Regions from separate parts of the Homo sapiens genome. Here region 2 is linked to region 1. Evidence: fine-mapped expression QTL. A gene starts in region 1. The other region holds a variant in brackets. All regions are shown on one strand. Distances are from middle to middle. Region 1 holds the start of OR6K3 (olfactory receptor family 6 subfamily K member 3). Region 2 has its middle 6.9 kb from the start of OR6K6.

Region 1 (4,409 bases):
AAAATTAAAAAGTATGAATACGAATAAACATAACAGAAGTTATATTATGCTCTTTCCCTACCCGACTGGGCCATTGTGCACATGCTCTTTGAAAATCTCTGTTCTAACGTGTTACAATGTAAACCTGAAGTTGACATTGAAATCCTGTCTATTGTTACCTATATGTCTTTTGGAAAATTACTTAATACCTCAGAGTATCAGGTAATCATTTGCAAAATGGGATTAAAAATAGTACCTATCTAACAAGGATGCTGTAGGATTTAGTAAATACTTGCAGAAAGATTTGGACAGTGTTTAATAGGCAACTTCTGGAAAGAGTGATACAATCTACCTCTCTGCATTTCTTGTTCTCCTTTAACACTGCTGTGTGCTTCCTCCCGAGCATTATGCTGATACTATACTGATCACGTTCATCAATGCCCTGCTAATTACTAATGGAAACTATCCAGTCATCTCTGGCACTCGACACTTTTCATTACTCCTGCTTGAGACTTTGTTCCTCTGTTTCCACGATTCCATTCTCAAGGGACGTGACGCCCAGATAGCTTTAAAGGCAGTTCTAGCTTTGACTTTTGCTTCTGTTTTATTTATTTTATTTATATTTTCTTTCTTATTCTGCCTCTTCTCTCTTATATTAGCTTGTGTTGTCTTTCTTAAATTCTTTCCCAAGAGTCTATTTTCCCCAGGTTCCTATCATCCACTTCAACCTCTTATAGTTTTATACACTCCCTTAGTGATCTCATCCGCTTACAGGATTTAAACTATTAATACTTCTAAATGTTTTTCTCTAACCAATCTCTCTTTCATAAGCTTCACACCAACTATCTGACTCTTAACTCTCTGTAGCTTCACCTGCTAACATTCTCCGACTCCTCTCTCCCCTGCAATCCCATTGTTCATGTTGCTTTCTAAAATCACAGTTCTCTCCTGTTTGTGCTACTTCCTCTGACTTTAAAGTAACATATCTCTCCCTCCTCTGCCCCCTCTCCTCACACAAAAGCAATATATACTGCTGGTTAAAAGTCTAGATGCCAGAAAAAAAATTGCTAGCATTTAAATTCTCTTTATGGCTTACCAGCTCTGTGACTTAACATGAAGTTACTTAGCTTCTCTATGCCTTTAATATCTCATTTGTAAAACTGAGAAAATATTAATACTGGTTAATGAAGTCCTGAGAATAACTAAACATTTTATAATAACAATAGAATTGTACAGTATAGTATACGGTATTATTACGTCACTAATGCTGGCACTATTCCAAGCACATTGTATATATTTTTCACCTCATGCTCTTAATGCTCTAATGAGGTGAAATGATTATCCCCATTTTACAGAGGAGAAAACTTAGGCACAGACAGGTTAAGTTCTTTGTCCAGAAATTCTCGGCTAATGCAGGGCAAAGTCAGAATTTAAATCTATGCACTGTATCTCTAGAGACACATTCTAACCTACATACAGTTGACTGCCTCTACCAATACATGTAAATGTATTTTAAAACCTTAGTGTTAGGAATATAGGAAACACTTGGAAGTGTTGAATGCCATTATGCTTTATTGAAGCGTTTGTCAGGATCCATCATCAACTTACTTGTTTTACCTTCTCTAGACTATAGGTTTCTCCTTCAGGACAGTGAATGTCTTTTATCCCTCATAGTGACTACAACAGGGTTAATATGTAGAGACGGTAGGTATCAAATAAATTAACTTGGAACTCAGCCACTTGGTACAATTATAACTAAGTGCACAAGACAGCCATGAGTAAGTGAACAAAGAAAATTGGGGACTGTTTGAAAAGGGAACTATGACAATTCAGTTCTAATGAGAGCCTCAATCAAGTCTTGACTAGATGATCTCTCAGAAAATGGCATTATAAATGTGGCATGCTGTTTCATATATACCCATGCCCAGAACCACACTGAACAGAGCTTCCTCCTGTAAATACCTTTGCCTTCCACCCTTATTCAAAGTTCTAAATTCTTTAATAATCAGGTCTTCAGGTTATGAGATGATGATGATGATGATGATTATGCATGGTGAATGAATTCGGTCTCTTTATGACTTAGTCATCTACACTCACCTTTGCCAAAAACACAGGGACTCCTCAGTCTGCCTGGGTCACTGCATCCTTAATATTACTTCAGCCTTTTCAAAAAGGGATTTATAGTCTCTCCATAGGGCATCCAGGGAATAACAGGAAAGGGAACTGGGCTCTGTGGAGGATTCTTCCCCTCCACTGCACTGAAGTGAATCACCTTCTCTCATGGGGTTAATTAACAGAAAGTTTCCCCTCTTACTCTCCTTTTGTTAGATTTTCAGATCGAAGTTGTCAATAAATATATATATTTTTCCTGATTGTACTCATCTTCCCAAATTTGTAAGCTTCCTTCTCTAGCACTTTCATGATTGTCTCAGCTGTTCTTGAGTGTACCAGTGTACTATGCAAAGGGTAGTTTTGACATGATCCTGGCCTTCTTATATGAACACACAGATTTGGAAAGCCTGGAAGGAATATACTGACACCAGAAGATCATCTTGAAAAGCTATTTTACAGAAAATAAGGCCATTTCATAATAAACATGGCACTGGGGATTTAGTGCCAATACTGAAGAAAGTGAGGAAACCATGTCTTTTTTTGTTTTTCTCATGTCGTGAGTGTGTATGGGTCTTTCCTACCTTGAACAACTCACACTGGTTCTGCTGACTTCTTTATTGAAGATCAATATCTCATCTTTTCTACAAGAGTATTATTTATATCTGTGCTTCATCCACTGATCTGTTGAAATTGCAAAGTTCTCATTTTTTTCAAAGTTAATTACTTTTATCATGTCATCTTCTTCTGGAAATATGTATCAAGTTCTCAAATAGGAAGACGTGCTTTCTGAGTTTTGTCTAACTTTTCTTCTTACGATTTGGGAGCCTATTTTGGTTGTCTAACTTGTAGGTTTTTTTTAATTCAAAAATGTCAACAGGCCACATTGTATTTCCAATGATTTTGTATAATATAAAACAGTCTGTTTTGATCCCATGACTCAAGTATTCTCAAGCTCAGAAATATTTTCCTTTAATTTTACTTATTATTTTCCTCTGTTTTGTTTTTTTTCTAGAATTTTCATAATCATATTTTGCTCTGTAATATCTATTAATACATTCTCCATATATAACTTTTTCTCTTTGCATGTAATATTTGGCTCTTCATGTGGCTTCTCTAAATTCTGGGACATATCTTCCAGGCAATCTTACAAAACATTAATTTAATTTCCTGTAGTATTTAATATATTCTTCAATATCTCCATTGTATATTAAATTTTGTATTTTTTATTTCTCAACTTTTTTTCTGATATCTTCACAAATCTCATCAAAATTTTAAATAGGAAACATTTTAATGATTTGTGTCTTAGAGTTAGTCTATGTAATGAAAGAGCATTTACTTTCAATTCCCTAACCTCTCTGTCTCTCTCAGTCTCTCTCTCTCTCTTTAACTGTAGTAATCCAACTACTTATTGGGCTATGCATTTGACAAAGTTAATGATTTTAATACAAACGGTGTATGGCAAAACTAAAATCATTGTTTTAAAGAAGGCAATCTGTGTTTGTCTGTGTGTGTGAGAGAGAAGGAGAGAATATATTTGGATACAAAAAATAAGAATATTAAATATCTAAATATGCACAGCAAATATGGAAATATCTGCCACGAAGTTCAGTATTAGTTATAGATTATTGCTTTGTGCTAAAAAGTTGTGCTTTTTTGTTTTGTTTTAGTAGCCTCAGTTTACCTGGATAGTTCCTCACTTCTCTGGCTTGTAAATTTAAGATTTACTTTTCATGTCCTTCTCTGAACACAGCTCAGTGGATAACTCCATTGTGACTGGGAAATTTCATACATTCTTTGGCTCCATTCTCTCTATCCAGATTTCCCAAGTAGAGCATCGTTCTCAATTTCTGTTTTTCCAAGCTTTAATTATTTTTTCCATCGGTTGTATGTGGAATTTCATCCAGTTAATTTCTAGGCTCTCCTCTTCTGTTTTCTTGTCCAACACCGGGCAGATAAGTATTTCCCTCAGTCGGATCTCATGTACTCATACCTGAGGAAGTGTTTTAACTTTGGAGGTCAATTGTGGGAACTCTTTTCCCCAGGATATATAATGCTTTGGTTTAACTTAATTTTGATTTTTGTTTTTTGCTGTTAAATTTTCAATATATATTTTTGTTCATTCCTGGACTATCCAATAAACAGAATCAACTGGTGCTTTTGATATAAACAGAAATTATTTTCTTTTCTAGAAAAAAGAAAGTGGTATATAATATTTCAGAGTACTGACATAGCTATCATGAAGGTTTTTAGGTAAACTTATAGATATTTTAATGTTCATTACTATATCTTTACACTTTTCAGTTCTTAGGTCATCTAAC
Region 2 (4,409 bases), 27 kb after region 1:
AGTAAGTCTATGTTGAAACAGGAAAATATGAGGTGAAAATTCCCTTGTTTTTCTTTAAGAAAACTTTTACATAAGAAATGGAGGCTCATAAAAAATAATTTATACTCTAGCAATTTTTACCTTAATTACTCTTATCTGGGCTTATTGTTTCCAGACTTGTCTTACTACATCTCACTTTCACATAGCTACTGAAATAATCTTTCCTAAATGCAAAGCTGTCAATCCTCTGTCTGAAAACCTTATACTGGCTCTCTGTAGGGTTCCAAATCAAACCTGAGCCTTTAAGCAGAACAGATAATATGGCTGTATATGAGATTGTAAAATTATTTTGTCATCCCAATATCTTATGACTGTATTATCCCCAACAGGCTTTCCTAGTATGATAGAAAATGATACCCGTGTAATTGTTCTGTGTTCTGCTTACAGAGGCAGTAGGGAGACAAACAGGGAAAGAAGCATTAAGCTCTATGTCCAGTACCGTTTGGAATTAGAAAATTGAAATCTGGAAATTTTTGTTAAAAAGGTAGGTCTTTAGGAACTTGAGTCTTTAAGAAGGAAAGAGGATGCCTATAGGAAGGCAATTTGATATAGAGTCTTGGGAGCAAAGTTATACCTAATAGGACTCTCCTATTTTCTGTAGGAATGGATACCCCAGAATCTCAACCAGAAGCTCCACTAGTTGTCCTGACATTCCTTTATTCTTAAGAGCCTGTCCTGATGCCACTAAATACAATACAAACCTAGATTAGAATTTAGCTCAGAAAATAGTAGAGTTGTGAAAGAGTCATAGAGCTAGTGGGCCAGACACAATTTGACAGATTTAGTCCAGGTGTTTGTTATCTTACGGCAATCTCTAATTGTAGGACAAACACTCACCAAAGCCCTCCATCCCTAAGTTATGGTCCTTTCCTCTACCTCATGTGTTGTCACAATCTCAACAAAATTTCCACAAGTCCTTCTTTAAAGTCCAATAGGAAATAATATGGTTCTGTGAAAATTGTCCCCCAATATCTAGTAAACAAAGTCATTCACTCATATCTCAAAGTAGAAAGTCCACCCATCAGTCCATAGCTACCTCTTCCAGAAACCAACAGAGCCACCTCCTCTTTTCCAAATGTCTCCATCTTCATTGCTCTGCAGCCCAATAAGTAGGAAGGTTGTAACCACAGCCACACCTCTAAGCATCACAGGGAATTGCTAAGTGGGAGAAAGGCTTTCTTCTAAAGGGCTCTTTCCTGGGGGGCTTAGGGAAAAGCAACTCTATGCCCCATGAGACTAATTAGGAAAACACTTGCTGACACACTCCCCTTTCATGAGGTCAACACACCTATGGGAAGCTAGGTTTTTCAGTCAGGCTAGAAATCAGATGAAAAGAGTACTTGGCTTTCCATTCTGTCCAAGGGGTAAAAGAATAGTTTAAATTACAAAATCTGCTGAGAAAGGGAAAGGATAAGGAACAAAAGGAATGAAACTAACGCAATGTGGTTCAAAGGCAGGAGAATTTTCTCTACTCTTTGGAGCAGTTTAGTGATCACACAGCACAACCCTGAAGTGTATTGCAGAAGATTCAGCCAGCTGCCATCCAGCACAGCTTAGTAGAATTTCTTCAGAAGGATCCAGGGATCACAGGGCCATTTGCAGTAGTGGCAGTAATGAGGGGGCTCTCATGAGATTTCATGGGTTTCAGGGGTTCCAGCAGCAGATATCCCAAGTGTATGGAGTCAGGAAAGGATTGAAGGGCAACCTTTCCTGCTACATGAAAGCTGTATTGATGAGCACACATGAGCTAGACCTTGGACAGACCTGAGGAAAAAAAAAAAAAGGGCCCTCATATAGAGGACAGGAAATAGAAGCAGAAGGATACTTTTCTAATTCTTTTTTTCCTACTTTTTAAAAACTGAAATTGGACTTAATATTAACCTCCAGGTGGGTAAAGGCAGAAGAAATAGACATATACAACACATAAGATTTTTTTCTTCTATCACAAAAAGAGATATAAAACAATCACGAAGTGTTAAATGTTTAGTGGAACAGTAGCAGTGGATATAGAAATGCAACAGAATTTGAAAGCATATTTGAAATTAGAAAAAAAAAACTTATGAGACACAGGCATATATGGTGCGAAAAATGAGTCAGAGCAGAGGTGACTTTCGACTCTGAATGATTAGATTTTTAATAGGCGATTTTTAAGGCAGATCCTTGAGTGGAGGCAGGGGGACTGATTGAGGCCATGACTTCGAGGCTGCAGTGCAC[C/T]GTGATCGCCCCTGTAAGCAGCCACTGCACTTCAACCGGAGCAATAGAGTGAGATTCTGTCTCTAAAAAATAAAAATAAAAAACAATAACAATAAATAAAGACAGTCCCTCAATAAGCATTCGATTAAGGAATATGTAGCTAAATAAACGAATAATTAAATGAATCGGCGAATAGCTAAAGAATCAGATAGTGACTCAAAGATAGTCTAATTTGTAGCCACACTGATGTTTACTTTTTGACCCTGATTTTATCCAGTCTTACCACTTAAGATAAATTCCTCCTCTTACGCTTTGAACCTATTTATCTCATCTCATGCAGAGACACTGTTCCTTCAGTTGTCTCACTTACCTATGTATCCTCCAAATTTTCCTCTTTTTAGTCTGCTTATATAGCTTATGAATATGCTCAAACATATTAAAGTATATACTCTTTCTCATTTTCATTGTTGCTCTAAGTCTGCCATACTGCCTTTCTTCTTCCCGATCTTATTTTCCTAAAAGCATAGTTTACTCTTTTATCAGTATTTCTGTCTCCACCTTTTCACTTCTTGTTCACATGAACCTACAACCCCACTTAAGAGATAGAATATTATGAATAACTTTGAAGACCACTACACTTTCCTCCCCAATCCAGTTCTTTATTGCCATATTACATATTACCATTCACCTGAATTTTGTGTTTATTATTCTATTTAGCACATGTGTGCACACTCAAAAACAATATACTGTTTAGTTCTGTTTTACTCTATGTAAATAGAATGGTATTTTAGGCATTACTTTATAATTTGCTTATTCACTCAACATATGTTTTGAGAATCATTCACATCAATGTATCTAGCTGCAACTTTAAAAGAAAATCCCTGCTGTCTTGTATAAATGGAGCACAATTTAATCATTCATTAGCCTTCAACGTTTTGTATTCTGGAATATTTGCATCTTCAACTTCACTAGATGCTGCCAAATTGTTTTTCAGAATCTGTCTACCACCAACAATAAATGCATTTTTATTGTTGCACATCTTTTCTAATGTTCTGGGTGGTCATATTTTTGCTACTCAGTTGTTGTGTAAACAATATGCTATTGCTTTGATTTGCAGTTGAATGTTGTATGTGTGTATGTGTGAGTGTGTGTGTGTGTGTGTGTGTACTCCTCATTTGGTTGTTTATCTTTTTCTTATTACTTTGTAGAAGCTTTTTGTATATTCTAAATAAAAATAATCAGTTATAAACGTTATTACAAATACAGACTCCTAGTGTATATCTTGTTGTTTTTCTTTTTAATGATGCTATTTGATGAAACGAACTATTAAATAGTTTTATTCATCAGTCTTTAAATTTATGGTTTATATTTATATGGAATTGAAAAATTTTAACTAAAGTTCCAATACAATTGATTAAACAATGCACCTTTTTCCACAGACCTGTTGTGCTGGCTATGTTCATCTTTTCCCCAGTGGTCTGCTATACCTACTCTCACGTATGTTAAAATCCCATACTATATTAGTCTATTTCTTTGCTTCCATTGGCTGTTTACTCCCACTGCTATTTTATTACAAATATTGCTTCATAATAACTTTTACTAAATAGACAAGTGGCACCATTTTAATCTCCTCCTTTGAAATGTCTTCTTCTTGGCCCTCATTCTTACATATCCCACTCCTCTCTACTCAAAATGAGATTTTGATTGAAATTGGGTTGAAATGATTGACTTGTAGATGATTGGCATGTTTATGTAACTGAGACATTCTATTCATTCATACAGCATATGGATCAATTTATTTATGTTTTTGATATAGTCCAATACAGTTTTATAAAGTGCTATGTTTAGATGTAACATATCTTTTACAGTTTTTTATTTTTGTTGATACTTCAAATGGCATCTTTTTATTACACTTTTTGTCAACTGTTACATATAATAATGCAATGTTAAATATATCCATTTGTATCTATGCACTTGCTGAACTTTGTGTTATAATTTGTCTTTATTTTCATTTGGAAATTTTATATCATCTTTAACTAATTTCATTCTTTCTTCTTTATGGTCTTAATGCTGTGTGTTTCTTTTTCTTATTTTCAAAGTTTTACTTTTTATGATGGACACCCATTTTTAAATATATATCTCTTTATATAGGTATATATACATACCTATGTATATAA

What was found.
Region 2: its variant is fine-mapped to the expression of OR6K3 in lung (TOPMed, PIP 0.96).

Annotation. Positions count from the first base shown.
Region 1 is chr1:158,718,607-158,723,015 of GRCh38, forward strand. OR6K3 (olfactory receptor family 6 subfamily K member 3) reads right to left here and starts at 2,114. Exons shown (of 2, transcript NM_001005327.3): 1 at 2,077-2,114.
Region 2 is chr1:158,745,585-158,749,993 of GRCh38, forward strand. No RefSeq gene overlaps it. Among named protein-coding and RNA genes, the nearest start is that of OR6K6, 6.9 kb to the right of the region's middle. The variant C/T (reference allele first, on the strand shown) is at 2,254.